Regions from separate parts of the Homo sapiens genome. Here region 2 is linked to region 1. A link means that fine-mapping ties the variant in region 1 to the plasma level of a protein whose gene starts in the linked region. Region 1 holds a variant in brackets. A gene starts in the other region. All regions are shown on their reverse strands.

The links. A credible set is the group of variants that fine-mapping cannot tell apart. PIP is the chance, under the fine-mapping model, that this variant and not a neighbour inherited with it causes the effect. Protein levels are from antibody-based Olink assays in UK Biobank. Linkage for the fine-mapping came from a reference panel and not from the study's own genotypes, which makes the PIPs less certain.
Region 2: it holds the start of CCL25, and the variant in region 1 is the best candidate, but not a certain one, in a credible set for the plasma level of the CCL25 protein (UK Biobank, PIP 0.78).

Annotation. Positions count from the first base shown.
Region 1 is chr12:463,701-473,986 of GRCh38, reverse strand. All of the region lies in intron 1 of B4GALNT3 (beta-1,4-N-acetyl-galactosaminyltransferase 3), which reads right to left. It overlaps LOC124902853 (a long non-coding RNA gene), which reads right to left and starts at 2,248. Exons shown (of 2, transcript XR_007063151.1): 1 at 1-2,248. The variant A/G (reference allele first, on the strand shown) is at 6,357.
Region 2 is chr19:8,047,573-8,057,858 of GRCh38, reverse strand. It overlaps CCL25 (C-C motif chemokine ligand 25), which reads right to left and starts at 5,099. Exons shown (of 6, transcript NM_005624.4): 1 at 5,037-5,099; 2 at 4,737-4,859; 3 at 1,590-1,707; 4 at 1,360-1,493; 5 at 1-58. The coding sequence starts at 4,809. RefSeq lists silencers at 7,097-7,156, 7,457-7,546.

The DNA.
Region 1 (10,286 bases):
GTCATGTCCTCCAGCCCTGAGTTATCTGTCTTAGGACTGTCACTTCTGGGAGAGCCCCCTCATCCTCCAAGCTAGTCCCTTTGTGCGATTATTGCTTCTTTTTCTTCCCAAATAGCATCACCATCTCAAATCCCGATCTGTTTGTTTACGCGATTATCCTCTGTCTCTTCCTCACCAGAAATGTATGCTCTGTGATGGCAAACTCTTCCAACTTCTTGTTCCCCATGATCTCCCTAACACCCAGAGCATAGCCTGGCATATAACAAGTGCTCAGTAAACACCTGCTGAATGAATGTCTGCCTCCCCACCCTTTGCATTCTTCTGTAGGACCACCATGGTACTCAAGCTCCAGAGAGGAAAGTACAAGGACAAATGAAGGCATTTTTTTCTCAGGAGACCATTTCTGAGATGCTGGATGCACAAGACAACCCTTAATTAAATGATTGTGGCAGAGTACAGCCAGAGACCCACGTATGAAACCCACAACTTTGGTATTCCATCACCTTCTCCATCAACCCTACTGCCAAACTCTGTCACTTCCTGCCTTGACATGTCTCAGCTTTCATCTGCCACTCCTTCCGGCTAGGCGCTCACCACCCACCCTCTCGGTCACTGCAGTAACCACCTCACTACATCCTAGCCATCCTGCAAACTTCCAACAGCCTAATCAACCTACAGTCACAAGTTCCTGGGATGTAGAAGGGGTTGGTAAGTATTTAAAGGCAGTGGGGTGGCTCACGCCTGTAATCTCAGCACTTTGGGAGGCTGAGGAAAGAGGATTGCTTGAGCCCAGGTGTTCAAGACCAGTCTGGACAACATACTGAGGCCCATCTTTACAAAAAGTTTAAAAATTAGCTAGGCATGGTGGTGTATGCCTGTGGTCTTAGCTACTAGGGAGGCCAAGGCAGGAGGATTGCTTAAGCTGAAGAAGTCGAGGCTGCAGTGAACCACTAGACTCCAGCCTGGGTGAAAAAGCAAGATTCTGTATCCAAAAAAAAAAAAAAAAAAAAGTGTTTGAACAATTAAAGTACAAATCAGTGGATGAAAAAAAGAAAACACTCCCTCCATATCAAACTCCTGCTTTAAACAATTTATGTTGGCTAGACACAGTCACAGTGGCTTGTGCCTGTAATCCCAGCAGTTTTGGAGATAGACGCAAAAATATTGCTTGAGTCCAAGAGTTTGAACCAGCCTAGGCAACATAGTGAGACTCTGTCTCTACAAAGAAAATTTTAAAATTAGCAGGCATAGGTCGGGCGCGGTGGCTCACGCCTGTAATCCCAGCACTTTGCGAGGCCAAGGCCAGCGGATCATGAGGTCAGGAGATCGAGACCATCCTGGCTAACACTGTGAGACCCCGCCTCTACTAAAAATACAAAAAATTAGCCAGGCGTGGTGGCGGGCACCTGTAGTTCCAGCTACTCGGGAGGCTGAGGCAGGAGAATGGCGTGAACCCGGGAGGCGGAGCTTGCAGTGAGCCAAGATGCACCAGCCTGGGCGAAAGAGCGAGACTCCGTCTCAAAAAATAAATAAAATAAAATAAGCAGGCATGGTGGCATGCACCTGCAGTCTTGCCTACTTGGGAGGCTGAGGTGGGGTGATTGTTTGAGTCCAAGAGTTTGAGACTGCAGCGAGCCATGATCATGCCACCAAACTCCAGGCTGGGCAACAGACTGAGACACTGTCTCTAAAAATAAAAAACATCAGTTAATCAATAAAATAAATGTATGTTGCTCCCTACCAAGTCCAAACTCAGCAACCTGGCCCTCAGGAGAGTCCACAATGAGGTTGCAACTACCATTTCATCTTCATCTCCTTCAAGCCTCTGCACTACAGAACTTGTGTTCCCTACAAAAGTTTGTATTCCCCAGACTTTCCACTTAGCTTATGCTATATTCCTCAAATGGAAATATTCACCTTTGCTTAGACACACACACCCGAATAACAACAGCCTGCTGTCGCTGGAGGAGGTATTAGAAATTCAAGCCAGAGGACTTCCTTTTGGAAAATACCCACAGCAAAATATTAAAAATGCTAGATGAAGTATGACAAACTGCTGTTTTATTTACATAGTAAAGCCCTCCACAAGGTAAGAGAATCTCCAGCAGCCAAATTTGAAGATGTAAAAATCAGAGCAGTAAGCAGATGCTAACATATTGGCAGCCTCTTGCAACCAACAATTTTAGATAATTAAATAAATTTGTTTTAAATTTTTTAAATGCAGAAGAATGATGTAGTTTATTTATATTTATTTATTTATTTATTTTTTATTATTATTTTGAGACAGAGTCTTGCTCTGTTGCCCAGGCAGTAGTGCAATGGCATAATCTTGGCTCACTGCAACCTCTGCCTCCCAGGTTCAAGCAATTCTCCTGCCTCAGCCTCCCAAGTAGCTGAGATTACAGGCATGTAATCTCATGCCCAGCTAATTTTTGTATTTTTAGTAGAGACGGGGTTTCACCATGTTGGCCAGGCTGGTCTTGAACTCATGACCTCAGGTGATCCACCCACCTCGGCCTCCCAAAGTGCCAGGATTTCAGGCATGAGCCACCGTGCCCAGCCTATTTATTTATTTATTTATTTATTTATTTATTTATTTATTGAGACAGAGTCTCACTCTGTCACCCACGTTGGAGTGCAGTGGCACAAAATCAGCTCCCTGAAACCTCCGCCTCCTGGGTTCAAGCGATTCTCCAGCCTCAGCCTCCCGAGTAGCTTGGATTACAGGCATGTGCCACCACGTCCAGCTAATTTTTGTATTTTTAGTAGACAGGGTTTTGCCATGTTGGCCTGGCTGATCTCAAACTCCTGACCTCGAACTCTGCCTGCCTCAGCCTCCCAAAGTGCTGTGATTACAGGTGTGAGCCACCGCGCCCAGCCACAATGTAGTGTTTAAAAACCCAACAAATTTGAAATAGAACAAAATAAAACTTACAGATATGAAAAATACAGTCACTACACTGGGCACGGTGGCTCACGCCTGTAATCCCAGCACTTTGGGAGGCTGAGGCGGGCGCATCACCTGAGGTCAGGAGTTCGAGACCAGCCTGACCAACATGGCGAAACCTAAAAATACAAAAATTAGCTGGGCATGGTGACACATGCCTGTAATCCCAGCTACTCGGGAGATTGAGGCAGGAGAATGTCTTGAACCTGGGGGACGTAGGTTAGAGTGAGCCGAGATCGTGCCACTGCACTTCAGCCTGGGTGACAGAGCGAGACTCCATCTCAAAACAAAACAAAACAAAACAGTCACTAAAATGAAAAAATGGGGTAGCGGTCTCTCCCTCCATTTCGTTCCCTCATTTCTCTACCCATTTTCTGTGCCTGTGCAACGTCCCCTGCCTTCTGCTATCGGAAGTCATTCACCTGGGACGTGCTGCCCATCTCCACTGCCCTTTCCCAGGCCCTCTACTCAGCTGAAATGGGAAGAAAGGAGACCCGGGACAGAGAGTACGTATTGCGCTGTGTGCCTGGTCCATGAGGGAATCCTCCACGTCCTCATCCTCCTGCCCACCTTTGCTAAGAGGTGCTGGTGAGCAGTCGGGACCAGCTGGCTGGTGAGGGAGGTGTGCGTGAGCACACACTGCACACATTCGTTTGAACCTGGGCTTGGCAGGCAGGGTGGAAAGCAGTGGATCAGAGGATTTGTAAGAAGATCTCAGCAGGGAGGCCTTTAATCTTTTAGGCAACTGCTTGTACGGAGACCATGTTGTCAGAGATGACCTTGGAGGCGAAAGCAGTCAGAACTATTGGGAGAGCTGCCACCTCTCGGTTCAGGCGACTGAGCCTTGAAAGACCAGGGCCAGATGTCAAAGATATTCCCTTCCGACTGTCCCTTTCACCCCTTAGTGACGTGCGCAACTTCCAAATCTACTCCTGCAAGGAAGCATCTCACTCCAAAGATTATGGAACTGAAGCCCTCAAAAGGACAGGAAATTAGTTACAGGTAAACTGATTTCCTGTAGACAGGAAACCAGGCAAATTAGTTACAAAGCTAGGATGTACACTGGCCATGCACGGTGTACATTAACTGGCCATGCGCGGTGGCTCATGCCTGTAATCTCAGCACTTTGGAAGGCTGAGGTGGGAGGATCCCTTGAGCCTAAGAGTTCAGGACCAGCCTGAGCAACATAGTGAGACCCCATCTCTAAAAACAAAATTTTTTAAAAATAAATAAATAATGAGATAACTGCCAGGTGTTCCTGCCTTTTAGTCCCAGAAATCCCAGTGTGTACACAGGGGTATGCAGCAGAGTGAGAGGCTATCGCTTCCCAGTTGCTGTGCTTCTGTGTCCTGGTACAGCCCCCCAGACAGCTCTCGTTCTCCGCAAAATCCTTGACTCCTAACCTGGCCCCCACCCCTAATATAAATCTTTGCCTGGGATGGAAAGATGCAGGCATTGCTGAACATCATGGAGGAAAAAAGTGATTGAAGAATGTGTATTTGGTGGCAAGTGCTGGATATGGATGGCACAGTAATGCTGGGGTACTGGACACAGCTGTGTCATGGGCTGAGAAGTTTAAGAAGCACTGGAAAAAGGGCCAGTTGAGGAATGTGTCTATTTGTCCCCTCCTGCCCAGCCATTCTCTAATTCCTATCAGACTGAGAGGGAGGAGATGGGAACCAATATTCATTGAGATCCTAATATGTGCTCGGCTCACTAAACCTCATTTAGTCATAAGGAAAGTTCTACGGGAACAGCATTATAGCTCCACTACCCAGACAAGGCTCCCGAGACTTACAAAGGAATAAGTACCTTCCTACAAGGTCTCACGATTGGTGAGTCATGGCGCTTGAACTGGAACCTTGCCCTGCCTTCAGACTCCACAGTTTTTCCAGGAATTATCAATGCTTTTCAGTCCACTCAGAGTCTGCCACAAAAAGTAAATGCTCCATAAACATTCTGCTTTAAGTTTAGAATGAATCACTTCTGCAGCCACTCAAGGTTTACAAAATAAATAAAAACTGCAGAATACACAACGTTCAATTTCCTGAGCATTTATACATAAAGTCTTTGGTCGGCCTGGAATGTGGTTTCTCTATTTCCACTCCCACCTCTCTCTATTCTCGTCCATTTGTGGGCCCTCTTCCTGGGTCGTGTGGCCACAAAGCAGAATGTGAGCTGTGCAGAGTGAGACACACACATAGCCTCTGCTAGGCACCACGAGAACACAATTTCAAAGAAGAAATGGGTGGAAGAGACACATGAAGTCTATTCCCTGGGCAGGGATTCTCAGCTGCTAATACAGGGGCTAGGTCTCTAAATTAGTTTGTGACTTTATGCATCCAAAAGCCACAGGCTGGCAGCAGCCATAGATCTTCATGTTGAGGTGTCCTTGCTGGTGTGAGGAGCTGGTGTGAGACCTTTGCAGGGATGGGTGCCCACATGACACACCAGGTTTCTGGCCTTCCTGGCCAGTCTCTCGGCTGTTCTCTCGGTAGTGTCAAGGATGCCTCCAATTTTATTGAATTTGCCTTGTATGGTGTCACTGTTTTCAACAAAAGTGGCTCAGTCCCCAATATCTGTCAGTAAATTCTAAGCTTTTGGTAGTCTTCTTATATGGAAAGACGTAATAATTTATTTGTGGATGTGATTCAACTTTTCAGTACCTAAATAAAGACCCCCAAAAAGGTCAGGGCAATACTTTTTTGGCTTTTTAAGTTTTTAAATCCAGACTTTTTGTCTAAGGCATCCTGGAATCCAACATCTGCTTATCACTGCTTATTACACTTCATTTTTTCAACAATGTCTAGGTCAGAGTGGTGACATTTTAGGTGATTGTTCATTTCTTCTTCATATTTGTATGTATACCATAGCACTTTTGTTGATTTATTTTATGCCTTGATTTGGTCCAGGAAAAACTAAAGTAGTTTACAATGACCATATAAGATAAGATGACATAAACTGGAAGTAGTTAGTTGTGGGAGTGGGGAGATAAAATAAAGGTACAGTCATAAAATTAGTAGAAAAATACAGATCATAAAATCCTTTACACTTTTCTCCAGGTGAAGAAAAAACTGAACCCTAAAGCTTCCTAGTAACCAACACGACGAGAGAAATCTGAGTGATTATGCAACTTACGTGACCAATAGAAATTAAAACAAACCGCTCAAGAGAAGCACAGCTGTTTCTAAGACCAAGACCAGAAGAAACATGTTTAGAGCGTTCTCATACAGGAATGAGCAACAGTTCTCAACTCCACCCTGGCAGGGTGCTACTGGAGAATTCCAGAGGCTACTATGTATCCTGCAGTCTTGAGGCCCCTGGTCTTCCTTGGCCTTAGGTTATTTTGTTAGTGATGCTGTGGTGCCTAAAGGCAAAAAAGTGCTTTCGCAGGGTTAATGTGGTCCAG[A/G]TACACAGCTGTTGTCTAGTATAATAAGCATGGATTATTTTTATCCCTATTTTATTTTGTTTATTTATTTATTTAAGACACAGTCTTGCTGTCACCCAGGCTGGAGTGCAGTGGCGCCATCTTGGCTCACTGCAGCCTCTGCTTCCCAGGTTCAAGCGACTCTTGTGCCTCAGCCTCCCGAGTAGCTGGGACTACAGGCACACACCACCACACCCAGCTACTTTTTGTAGTTGTAGTAGAGATGGGCTTTCATCATGTTGGCCGGGCTGGTCTCGAACTCCTGACCTCAAGTGATCTGCCCACCTTGGCCTCCCAAAGTGCTGGGATTACAGGTGTGAGCCACCACACCTGGCTGCATTATTTTTATCATCATAAAGAATATCATTTTAAAATGAGGCCGAGCACAGTGGCTCACTCCTGTCACTGAGCCCAGGAGTTCAAGGCTGCATAAGCTAAGATCACACCACTGCACTCTGGCTTGAGAGACAGAGTAAGACTCAGTCTCAAAAAATACTTTCATTAATTTAATTTAAAAAATTGCTAATAAAAAAAGAACCACAATCTGTATTATTCCATTTATATAAAATATTAAAATATGCTAAACTAATCTATGCTGATGGTAGTGATTCATAGCACCGCCCCCACCGGGGTACTGGGGTACTGGTAATACTCTGTGTCTTCATCGTGGTGCTCCCAACACAGGTATTTTCAGTTTGTGAAAACTGCTCATCAAGCTTTCCGTACATATACTTGAAAAAAAAGAGGAACCACAGGGACGATTTGCATGTTTATTTTCTTAAAAGTTGGTCAGTATCAGGCCTTTTGTAGTTATGAAATAAAGAACATATTGAACATAAAAATAAATTATATACTAAAATATTACAAGAATACAAAGAATATTCATTTTTGCTCATCCAATGGATACTTCTAAATTCAAAGTAGCACTTGTTAACTTGAGTCTGCAAAAATTTAAAGATCTGTCACACTTTGCTCAGAATATACAACACATGCAGCCCAGTGCCCTTTAGAGCCACTATCCGACTATTCTCACCTCTTCCACTCGCATTTTTGTATAGTGGTTAACATATAAATCTATTAATTATGTGAATCACAAGGTCAAAGAATTGTCTGAAAACTCCAAATGTCTGGTTGGCCTAGTTGAGACCACATAATCTTTACATATAACGAAAAGTGCTTGTGGAAAATAAAAGCGTAGTTTTTGAGACTGGTGGAACGCTGCAGAGGAGAACTAGACAGCGAGCGGCCAACTCCAAGAACAGCCTCTAGGACCCCTTCCAAAGCAAACTCTGCTATGTCGGCTGCTCTGCTCTGCTCCACAAAGCTCAGCACTAGAGGGCAAGCCCAGGCTCCATGGCCTGGAAAATTACTGCAGCGTACTTACCAGCCTCTCCAGAAGCCAGCACGGAAGCACTTTCAGAAGACCTTGTGCTACAAAGCAGTTATAACCATGCACAGCGTCTGAACAACTCCCAGGACAGGGAGTGGCAGGCAGCCCCAGCACCATCAAGCAGGGGAATGGGACCTCAACTCCCAGGACAGGGAGTGGCAGGCAACCCCAGCACCATCAAGCAGGGGAATGGGACCTCAACTCCCAGGACAGGGAGTGGCAGGAAACCCCATCACCATCAAGCAGGGGAATGGGACCTCAACTCCCAGAACAGGGAGTGTGGCAGGCAGCCCCAGGACCATCAAGCAGGGGAATGGGACCTCAACCCCCAGGACAGGGAGTGGCAGGCAGCCCCAGCACCATCAAGCAGGGGAATGGGACCTCAACTCCCAGGACAGGGAGTGGCAGGCAACCCCAGCACCATCAAGCAGGGGAATGGGACCTCAACTCCCAGGACAGGGAGTGGCAGGCAGCCCCAGCACCATCAAGCAGGGGAATGGGACCTCAACTTGAGGGTCCCTGGGTAGTAGGCAGGGTAAAGATGGCAGATGTGTTGCTGAGGTTCGCCGGCCACATCAGCACAGGGACTGAGAGACCAGGGAAAGGAGAGACTCTAAATATGGGTAAGGTCACCTATTGTCAAAAACTGCATTCCTCGTATAGGCAATGCCCAAAGAAAATACGCTTATGATTAAAAAAAAAAAAACCATTGATGTCTTATCGCTTATCTTCTGTATTTGTATTCAAAGGCTATTGTTGTGTATATGTATTATGGTACAGGGAACAAGAATTCCTAGGTTCTATTCTTGGATCAGTCCCTGATAAACACAGTATCTGCCAGTGGAAAATATCAGGTGCTTGGAAATTCAGAGCTGACACATTCATAACGAGAAGGTACTTATCTGAGCGCCTAGTATGTGCCCAGAATTGAAAGTTGATTAGAAGACACACATAGTAGCCTGGTGACTGGAATATCAGCATAAAGAGCGATAAACCGGACACGTGAAAAGGAGCTACACGAGAGGTAAACCACGTGAAAAGGAGGTTCCCTGGGACAGAGAGGCACACACCCACCAGAGCTGCATGAGACACAGTCCCTGCCCACAGGAGCACACGAGGCGGTTGTGCTTGCTGCTTCACTGGGTTTCAACTCCATGCCACACTATCCCTCCTCTGCCCACACATCTGTCTCATTTGCTTCTCCCTCTCTCCCTGCCTGCATCTCAGATTACTGCTGTGCCCTGCATTACCTCTCTCACTGGAGGGTTTGTATCCTTTCCAAATCAGAACGGCTGTGGTGGCCAGAGCTGCAGTCACTGCCTCACACCGCGGGTGTGCCTCCCTCAGCCCACTCGAGTCAGCCAGAAGTCACAAAGGCCAACCAGAGAGATGTGGTACAGATAGAGGTAAGGCAGCGAAAGCCAACGGCTTCCTGAGCTTCAGAATACTTTGGGATCCAGCAAGTAATCCTGGCACTTAAATGGGAGATCTAAAAGGAGCCAGCACATGCCATCCTTCTGTCTTGGATTTGCGCCCAAATGTCATCCCTTGGCTCTGAGATATTTCATCTCTAGAAACCATTTTTTTTTTTTAAGTAGAGTCTCGCTCTGTCACTCAGGCTGGAGTACAGTGGTGCAATCTCAGCTCACTGCAACCTCTGCCTCCTGAGTTAAGCAATTCTCCTGCCTCAGCCTCCCCAGTATCTGGGATTACAGGTGTGCGCCACCATGCCTGGGTATTTTTTTAATCTTTTTTAGTAGAGATGGGGTTTTGCCATGTTGGCCAGGCTGGTCTCGAACTCCTGACCTCAAATGATCTGCCCGCCTCGGCCTCCCAAAGTGCTGGGATTACAGGTGTGAGCCACCACCCCCGGCCTCTAGTCCAGAACTCTGCCTTCAGATAGAATCTTTGCTGATCCAATATGAACAAATGGGTATATAACTTGTGAAAACCTGCCTAATTGGAGAATCTTTAACTTCCAATAACAATTTGTTCCCAGGGCTGCTTTTCAGCCAGTACACACCAGGATAGCCGTACCACTTATTAAAACACTGAAATCCTTAAGCATGTGTTAGTACAGTGGCTGCCCCAGGCCCTCTGAGTGTCCCACTGCCACCCGGACCCCTCCCCAGGACAGCTTCACGACCCAGCAGCTAAAGAGTTAATGTTGGGCTCAACAAGGGGACTCGTCAGGACCCTGTTCCAGAACCACCATGCCACACCAAAAGTATTGTTACCCTTACCCGTCCCATTCTACAATGCTGCCGTATTCTAAAACTTTCAACTGCTTTCTGCTAGCTACTGAATAAATGCCACTCTTTAAGGTCTTTATTCAGCCTTCCACATACAGCATCATCCTCTATTCTTCTTATACCCTCTGTTTCACCAAACTCAGCTGCTCAGTATTCTCAAACATAAACTTTCCCCGACTCTTGGTCTTTGTTGACGTAACTCTTTCTGTCTCGAATAGCCTTTCTGTATCCACCAAAATCTTACCAACTCTTCAAAACGTCCCAAAATGT
Region 2 (10,286 bases), not on the chromosome of region 1:
TTGGACGATGATAACTTGGAGTTTCCAGAACTCAACTTCTTTACAGCATGAGGGCCTGCTGGAGAAATGGAGAGAGAAATAAGCAAGAGCTCTGCCATCATCCTTTGAGCTCCTGGATCCAGCTGAGCCTGAAGCTGTTGACTGGTTATTTAAGCCAATGAGTCTCCCATGTGCTTGAGCTTTCCATCTGTACCAGTGGAAAGTGTCCTGATTAAAAGAGCTGGACTGGCTGGGTGCAGTGGCTCATGCCTGTAGTCCCAGCACTTTGGGAGGCCAAGGCAGGTGGATTGCTTGAGTCCAGGGGTTCAAGTCCAGCCTGGGCAACATGGCACAACCTGTCTCTGCAAAATGAAAATAAAAAATTACCCAGGCATGGTGGTGTGTGCCTGTAATCCCAGCTACTTGGGAGGCTGACGTGGGAGGATTGCTTGAGCCCAGGAACACAAGGCTGCAGTGAGATGTGATTGTGCCACTGCACTCCAGCCTGGGTGACAAGAGTAAAACCCTGTCTCAAAATAATAATAATAATAATGAGCTGGAGCCAGGCATGGTGGTTCATGCCTATAATCCCAGTGCTTTGGGAGGCCAAGGCGGGCAGATCATCTGAGGTCAGGAGTTCGAGACCAGCCTGGCCAACATGGTGAAACCCCGTCTCTACTAAAAATACAAAAATTAGCCAGGCGTGGTGGCGTGGGCCTGTGCTCCTGCTACTTAGGGGGCTGAGGCGGGAGAATCGCTTGAATTCAGGAGGCAGAGGTTGCAGTGAGCCGAGATCGTGCCACTGCACTCCAGCCTGGATGACACAGCAAGACTCCATCTCAAAAAATAAAAATAAAAAATAAAATAACAATGAGCTGGATTAGTGGAGCATGCCTGTAGTCCCAGCTACTCAGGAGGCTGAGGTAGGAGGATTGCTTGAGCCTGGGAGGTCAAGGCTTCAGTGAGCTGTGATGGCGCCATTGCACTCCAGCGTGGGTGACACAGTAAGACTCTGTCTCAAAATAATAATAAAAGAGCTGGACTGGTGGCACACACTTGTAATCCCAGCTACTTGGGGAATCTGAAGTGGGAGGATTGCTTGAACCCACAAGTTTGAGGCCGCAGTGAGCTATGATCATGCTACTGCACTCCAGCCTGGGCAACAGAGCAAGACCCCATCTCCAGAAACAAAAACTGGACAATGACTCAATCAGTTGGTCATTCACTTGGTGCCCCACTCACCAGCAACTGGCTTTGTTTGGGGTTCAGGCAGGTGTCAGTATTCTGGTCTCCAATTCCCTCCCTCGGGGTCTGAACCACACATGGGCTTGCAGGCAGGGAGGGCAGGCCCCCTAGATGCCCAGCAGAGGTCTTGCCCACCTTGGAAGGTCTGCGTGTTGTGGTGGAGCTTTGCAAAAACCTTATTTCGAGCATCCAGGAGCTTCATGGCTCTCTGCACCTCCCTGCTTTTGGGGTTCCCACACACCTTCCTGTGTCTCTTGGGGAGGTAGAATCTGTGGTGAGCAGAGGGGGGTGCCCAGGTTAGGGTGTAGGCTGGCAGCAAGGCTGTGTGTGCACCCCACCCCCCCAGCCCCCACGGCCCCACTCACATCGCAGCAGGCAGATTGCAGCTCCCGCTCACCTCCTGGATCCGGTAAGTCCAGGCGCGCCGGAGCACAGCCCACCCAATGGGGTAGTGGTAGGCCAGGCAGCAGTCCTCAAAGACACCTGCAACCACACAGCCGCCCAGATACTCGCACCCTTGCATGTTAACTTGGCAGGGCCAGCCACAGGCAAGGGCACCTGTCTGCATACCTGTCTGCTCATACCACAACCCTTCCAGGCCCGGCAGAGGCTGAGGAACAGCCTTAGGAAAGAAAAAGCCTCCTGGCTCACCCCTTATCCCTGGATATTGGGACAGCCAGAGGTTGGAGAGGACCCTTGGGTCCCGGCTGGGAAGGGTGTGGAACCAGCAAATGAACGGACCAAGGCCACCTCTACTCCTGCTCTGGGGAAAAGGGTGACTCGGAGTGCAGGTGCACTGTGAGGAGGGGCCAACACCACCCCTCCCCAGCCAAGTTCTTCCCTCCTAAAAATGAGCTGATTGGCAGCTCAGCACAGTGGCTCATGCCTGTAAACCCAGCACTTTGGGAGGCTGAGGTGGGTGGATCACCTGAGGTCAGGAGTTTGAGACTAGCCTGGCCAATATGGTGAAACCCCGTCTCTACTAAAAAATATAAAAATTAGGCCGGGCGCGGTGGCTCATGCCTTTAATCCCAGCACTTTGGGAGGCCAAGGTGGGCGGATCACGAGGTCAGGAGATTGAGACCATCCTGGCTAACACGGTGAAACCCCGTCTCTACTAAAAATATAAAAATTAGCCGGGTGTGGTGGTGGGCGCCTGGAGTCCCAGCTACTCGGGAGGCTGAGGCAGGAGAATGGCGTGAACCCGGGAGGCAGAGCTTGCAGTGAGCCGAGATCGCGCCACTGCACTCCAGCCTGGGCGACAGAGTGAGACACCGTCTCAAAACAAAACAAAACAAAAAACAAAAATTAGCCAGGCATGGTGGTGGGCGCCTTTTTTTTTTTTTTTTCCAGAGTCTCACTCTGTCACCCAGGCTGGAGTGCAGTGGCTCAATTTCAGCTCACTGCAACCTCTGCCTCCCGGGTTCAAGCGATTCTCCTGCCTCAGCCTCCCGAGTAGCTGGGATTACAGGCGCCCGCCACCACGACCAGCTAATTTTTGTATTTTTAGTAGAGACGGGGTTTCACCATGTTGGCCAGGATGGTCTTGATCTCTTGACCTTGTGATCCACCCGCCTTGGCCTCTCAAAGTGCTGGGATTACAGGCGTGAGCCACTGTGCCTGGCTGATAGTGGGCGCTTTTAATCCCAGCTACTCTGGAGGCTGAGGCAGGAGAATCACTTGAACCCAGGAGGTGGAGGTTGCAGTGAGCCGAGATCACGCCATTGCACTCCAGCCTGGGCGACAATAGCAAAACTCTGTCTCAATGAAACAAAACAAAACACCAACCAAACAAACAAAAAATTGTTTTAATACAAAGTAAAGAGCTCTCAGTAAATGTCAATGTCTAGACAAGCAGAGATGAAACACACAGATGAATTAGACCTAGTGTTGTCTTCAGGGAGCTCCCGGGAAACTGATCTCTGCAGAAAGGGGGAAGCACAGGCACTGTGGGGGGTGCCCAGAGGAGGAGGAGGTGATGCCAGAAAGTTCTGGGGGGATGAGCAGGTGGAATGAATGAGCCGAGGATGAGCTGATGAGATAGTGGAGGAAGCTGGGGTGCAATTCTCTGCCTAAATGGCCTTTGGAGTTCTCTGCAATCTCACCTCTGCCAGAACTAACCTCCAGAGGCCGAGTCTGAGTCCCTGCAGAGCCCAGCCCAGCAGGAGCAGGGAAAGGGAGGACTCGAGCCCTCCAGGTGTCTCCCAACCGCGGCCTCTGAGGGCAAGGGGCAGCGCATTCTGTTGGAACCTCGGACTGCAGTGCCAGGCAGGTAGTTCCCAAGGCTGGAGGCCAGGATCGAAGGGCTGGGCTGGGCCTGGCTCTGATAGCAAAACAATCAGACCACAGCCCAACCCCCTTCCCAGGCAAAGGCCAAGGACTTGGACCCATCAGACCCAGCCGAGGGGCAGGTGGGTCAGGTGGGGGCAGACAGGGAAGGAGGGTGGGACCCTGGGTCTGCCGCCCAGCCAGGGACCCTGCTTTGGCCAGCTGCTGAAACTCAGAGGATGTAGGACCCAGTGTCAGGGCTCCCGTGGGGACACCCCAGGCCCAGGAATTGTCCTTTGGCGACTGAAATCCTCAAGTGCTTGCTCTGCGGTAGGGAGTGGGGAAGAAGGAAAGAGTTCCCTATTAATAACAGGAACAGTTACTATTGCCGCCGCCAGACATGAGGCCTAGTCTTTTGCAGGCATGAGCTCACTGGACCCTCAAGTCAGAGCCATGCAGTGGGAATTTTAGATTCCCACTTTGCAGCTGAGGAAACGGAGGCTCCTAAAGGTTTAGGAAGCCGGGCACAGTGGCTCAAACCTGTAATCCTAGCACTTTGGGAGGCTGAGGCAGGCGGATCGCCTGAGATCAGGAGATCGAGACTACTCTGGCCAACATAGTGAAACCCCATCTCTACTAAAAAATACAAAAATTAGCCGGGCATGGTACACACGCCTGTAGTCCCAGCTACTTGGGAGGCTGAGGCAGAAGGATCGCTTGAGCCCAGGAGGCGGAGGTTGCAGTGAGCCAAGATCGCGCCACTGCACTCCAGCCAGGGTGACAGAGTGAGACTCTGTCTCAAAAAAAAAAAAAAAAAAATGGTTTAGGAGCAACTAACTCTCAGCTGGACTGCATGGAGGGACCAGGATGGGAATCCACTCTTGTCAGTCTCCAGGGCCCTGATCTCCAACCCCACCCCTGGCTCGGCAGGATTAGGATTCTACAATACATCCCTGGCAGTAACTGGCTTTGCCCACAGCTGGAAGCCACCCTCTGCTCCCTCACATCTTTAGGAGTCTTGCAAAAGACTCCATGGGGCTCTCGAAGAAGGAACTGGGGACTCTCCATCTCCCCGACCCCATCCCAAGAGCTAACCAAACACCAGGAGTTCCTGCATGTCAGGAGCGGGAGAATTCAGTGGAGATGGGATTGGGGAGACTTCCGGAGGAGATAAGAGACAAAAGGGGTGGGGTGGGGGCATGGGGAGAGGGGCACTTGGTGGTAGGCATTGCCGAACACAGTACCTTGGGTGTGGACAGCGGGGGCCCAGGCTCCCAGGAAGCCGGCCACCAGGCAGGCCAGGAGCCACAGGTTCATGCTGCAGGCGGGTCCTCCTCCCTGGGCACCTGGACGAATAACGGGGCCACCTGGGGTCGTGGAGGGAAGTGGTAAGGACTGAGGAAGAGGAGGGGAGTGGGTACTGGGAACATCCCCCCTCTTAAGCCCCAGGCATATGGCAAGGGAAGGAGGTTGTATAAAGTAGGAACAAGTTGTGCTGGAGGGAAAAGCTGTTCATCTCAGTCATGTTCAAGGAAAAGACTCACCGATATCCACTGGGTCAAGGGAGCTGATGCCCGCCGGGCTGTAGGCCAAGCTGTCCCATCTGCAGGACCAACACGCTGAGCTTCACTCTTTATAGACAGAGCCCCACCCAGCCACCCCCTGCCCGCCCTCCTCCCTTCCTCCTCCTCTCCACCTGCACTCTCAGCCTCTGGAATTCTCCCTCTTCTACAGCAAGCTCCAACCTCGACCCACAGGCCCCCTTGCCTCCCCACTCCCCATCCCAGGCCTCCCAGCCAGCACCCCTACTGTCTCCAGAAAGGGCCTTTTCCCCTGTTTCCCTCACCTGCACACACCTGGTGGACACTGGCTGCCTGCGAACAAGGCTCAGACTGCCTTGAGCCCCCAAACAAGCCCTTACCTTCATGCTCCCCCCGCCCTCAAGCCACCTGTTCCCTGGTGGGTCCCCAACTTCACTCCATTTCCCTCTCCTTCCACACCATGGTTAGGTAACTTAGCATGTCACAGAAATCCTCTGGTTGTGATCACAGGCAAATCCATAGAAACAGAAAGTAAATTAGCGGTGGCCACAGGATGGGGGGAGGGGAGAATGAAGGACTGACTGTGAGAGGGTATGGGTTTCCTTTTGTTCTGAAATTAGATGAGAGTGATGGTTACATAACTCTATGAATATAGTCAGCACGGCACAATGGTGCACCTCCCACCGGTGAACAACCCCAACAAGAAAGAAACTCTCTAGGCCAGGCATGGTGGCTCATGTCTGTAAGCCCAACACTTTGGGAGGCCGAGGCCAGAGGATTGCTTGAGCCCAGGAGCTCAAGACCACCCCGGGCAATATAGAGAGACCTGCGTCACTACAAAAATTTTTTAAAAAATTAGCCTGACGTAGTAGTGCATACCTGTAGTCCCAGCCACTCAGGAGGCTGAGGTGTGAGGATTGCTTGAGCCTTGGAGGTTGAGGCTGCAGTGAGCTGTGATCATGCCACTGCACTCCAGCCTGGGCAACAGAGCAAGACCCTGTCTCAAAAAATGGAAAAAAAAACGGTGGCCGGACACAGTGGCTCACACCTGTAATACCAGCACTTTGGGAGGCCGAGGCAGGCGGATCCTCTGAGGTCAGGAGTTCGAGACCAGCCTGGCCAACATGGCAAAACCCCATCTCTACTAAAATTACAAAAATTAGCCGAGTGTGGTGGGGGGGCACCTGTAATTCCAGCTACTCAGGAGGCTGAGGCAGGAGAATCGCTTGAACCCGGGAGGCGGAGGTTGCAGTGAGCCGAGATTGGGCCACTGCATTCCAGCCTGGGCGACAAGAGTGAAACTCTGTCTCAAAAAAAAAAAAAAAAAAAAAAACAAAAGAAAAAGAAAAAATGGAAGAAATGTTTTGTTTTTGGAAGAAAAGCCAGGAGCCCCGGGTAGCCATGCCCTCAGGAAGCAAAGCAACATTCACCGAGAAGGCATGTCTTTTTTTTTTTTCTTCTGAGACGGAGTCTTGCTCTTTTGCCCAGGCTGGAGTGCGGTGGCGCTGTCTCGGCTCACTGCAAGCTCCGTCTCCCGGGTTCACGCCATTCTCCTGCCTCAGCCTCCCGAGTAGCTGGGACTACAGGCTCCCGCCACCACGCCTGGCTAATTTTTTGTATTTTTAGTAGAGACGGGGTTTCACCATGTTAGCCAGGATGGGAGAAGGCATGTCTTCTTTCCCTGGGGCAGCAGGACCCAGCCAGGACACAGGGACTGGGGGAGACACGAGGTGAAGATTAGGGAGGGCGAAAGGAGCGCTGCAGAGGCCGCACAGCTGATTGCTTTAAACTTTTTATCGCCTGCATCCATAGCTACATCTGACCTCTGTGGGTATTTATCACATCCTAAACTCCTTTCTCATTTCTCCCCTTCCACTGGGAGCCCAGAGGCGGCGGCCCCTAGCCTACTTCCCTGTCCCAAACCACATGGCCGGGTGAGTGGGGCTTAGAGGTGGGGCCGGGCCTGGTGGGTGTGGCTTCTAGCCGGGGACGTGACTAGATAAATGACACTTAGAGCCCAGGGGCAGGGCTGGGTGGGCGTGGCTTATGGCTATGGGCGGGGCTTGCTATATGGCTCCGAGTCAGGGGCAGGGCAGAGTGAGTGGGATTTAAGACAGTGGGCGGAGCCTGACAGATGGCGCTTATGGTAAGGGGCCGGGCTTTGTAGGAGGGGCTTAGACTGGGGCGGGGCTTGCACGGTCAGCCCCGCCCCACCAGAGCAGTTAAGACGCGTCGGGGGCAGGTGCTCTCACCCGTCCCGTTGCTGCGGCCAGTGGCAGCCCACGGGCCGGGGCGCTGTTCCAGTTCCTCCGCCTCTTGCTCTGGGTGGGTGAGGCTGGACCAGGACGCGGCTCCGCGTGGCTGCGAGCGTGGGGAAGCGGCGTGGCGGGCTGGGGCCAGCCTCTCCGCTACGGCTCACTGCCCCCTACCTTCCCAACCCGCGGGCCGCGGCCAAGACGGTGTTACCCAGACTTGGGGGAGGTCCCCAACGTGAGTCTCCCTCCCTGCCTCACCCCTCACTGTTTGTCCCGCCGGCAGCCTTCACGGGGAGGAAGGGTTCCCAGTAAGGGGGCCCTCCAGGGACCAGCAAGCACGGAGCACTGGGGTGGGCGCGCTGGGGACCTGGGACCCAGGGGTTGGAGCAAGAAACGGGATGATCCCGGAGTTCTGAGGACCACAGTTGCTTTGAGTAAAGGCCAGACCTTCACAGTCGGGGCTGGACTGGCCTCTTCCACTCCTGCAGCAGCTGGGGGCATTAAGAGTAATCCGCTATCGGCCGGGAGCAGTGGTTCACACTTGTAATCCCAGCACTTTGGGAGGCCGAGGCGGGCGGATCACCTGAGGTCAGGAGTTCGAGATCAGCCTGGCCAACATGGTGAAACCCCATCTCTACTAAAAATACAAAAAAAAAAAAAAAATAGCCGGGCATGGTGGTGCGCACCTGTAATCCCAGCTACTTGGGAGGCTGAGGCAGGAGAATTGCTTGAACCCAGGAAGTGGAAGTTGCAGTGAGCCAAGATCTTGCCATTGCACTCCAGCCTGGGCAACAAGAGCAAAACTCCATCTCATAAAAAAATAAAAGAGCAGTCCGCTATCAGCAAGGGTCCTCTTCTCCGCCAGTGTGAAATCAGCACAGCTGGGGGGAACAAGTGCCCCCCACACCGACTTCTGTTCTGCACCTCTGATGATGGGAGCAGTTGAGGGTGGTCTCCATCCTGTAGCTCAGCCAAATTCAGAGACCAATACCCCAGAGCCTGCAGGGTTGGGTGGGTAGGCAGGTGTCTTTCTAGACAAGCCCAGTTGGTTGCAGTGGCCAGGTGGTGGGCAGGGGCGATGAGATGTTCTGGGAAGCCTGCACCAGCCACCACCACATCTGCCCTACCCAGTGGCAGGCACCTCTAGTGGGATGAAGGATGCTCCTGGGTGCTCACCATTGGCCCAACTGTGCAAAGGAGGAGATTGAGGGTCAGAGAAGCCAAGTTACTTACTTTTTTTGTTGGCCAGGAAAATCTAATTTTTATTTCTTAAATACTGTGAAGAAAAGGACAGTCCCCCAATGGGGAAGCGCCATAGAGCAGATGACTGGGAGGTCATCGGCAAAGGCTCAGGGGCACTGGGAGAACACTATGGGCAGAAGTGGGGGTCCTCCTGTAGTCACTTTTGCATATCAGACCCCAGCTGCCTGCAGCTCTCCTGAACTCTGGTGCCTCCAGGTCCCTGATGAGACTCTTGGCTTCTGATGGGCCCCCACTGCCCTGCATGGTCACGAGTCTTGTAGGGAGCAATCCACACCCCAGGAGCCCCGTCTGCCAGGCCTGGACTCCTGTTGTACCCACAGCTGCCTCTTTTTTTTTTTTTTTTCGAGACAGAGTCTTGCTCTGTTGCCCAGGCTGGAGTGCAGTGGCAGGATCTTGGCTTACTGCAACCTCCACCTCCCGGGTTGAAGCGATTCTCCTGCCTCAGCCTCCCGAGTAGCTGGGACTACAGGCGCCTACCACCATGTCTGGCTAATTTTTGTATTTTTAGGAGAGACTACATTTCACTATGTTGCCCAGGCTGGTCTCGAACTCCTGACCTCAAGTGACCTGCTGGCCTTGGCCTCCCAAAGTGCTGGGATTACAGGCTTGAGCCACCATGCCCAGCCTCCAGTTACCTCTTTTTAAAGAGAATTTGGTTATTTGAAAGATCTTTCTTCTTTTTTATGTAGGCATTTATTTATTGCTATAAACTTCCCTCTTAGAACCACTTTTGCTGCATTCATTGGTTTAGGTATATTGTATGTCCATTTCAGTTTGTCTCAAGTTTTTTGTTGTTGTTGTTTCTGTTTGTTTTATTTTGTTTTTAGAAACATCTCCCTCTATCACCCAGGCTGAGTGCAGTGGCACAATCGTAGCTCACTGCAGCCTCCAACTCAAGTGTTCCTCCCACCTTAGCCTCCCAAATAACTGGGACTACAGGTGAGCATCACCATGCCTGGCTAATTATTTTTATTTTTTGTAGAGATGGGGGGAGCGTCTCACTATGTTGCCCAGGCTGGTCTTGAACTCCTGGCTTCAGGTGATCCTCCTGCCTCAGCCACCAAAGTGTTGGGATTACAGGCGTGAGCCACTGCACCTGGCCTCAAGATATTTTTTAATTTCGTTTTAATTTCTTCTTTGACACATTGGTTGTTTAGGAGAGTGTTGTTGAATTCTCACGTGTGAATTTTCCAGAATTCCTCCTGTTATTGATCTCTAGTTTCGTATCACTGTGGTCAGAAAAGATACTTGATACAATCGCAATCTTACATTTGTTTTTTTGTTGTTGTTGTTGAGACGGAGTCTCACTCTGTTGCCCAGGCTGGAGTGCAGTGGCACCATCTCGGCTCACTGCAAGCTCCACCTCCCGGGTTCACGCCATTCTCCTGCCTCAGCCTCCCAAGTAGCTGGGACTACAGGCGCCCGCCACCACCACACCTGGCTAATTTTTTGTATTTTTAGTAGAGACGGGGTTTCACCATGTTGGTCAGGCTGGTCTCGATCTCCTGACCTCGTCATCCACCCGCCTTGACCTCCCAAAGTGCTGGGATTACAAGTGTGAGCCACCGCACCTGGCAATCTTACATTTGTTCAGGCTTGCTTTGTGGTCTAACATGATCTATCCTGGAGTATGTCCCCTGTGCACTTGAGGAGAATGTGCGTTCCGCTGCTGTCAAATGGAATGTTCTACATATGTCATTAGTTCCATTTGATCTACAGTGCATTTCAAATCCAA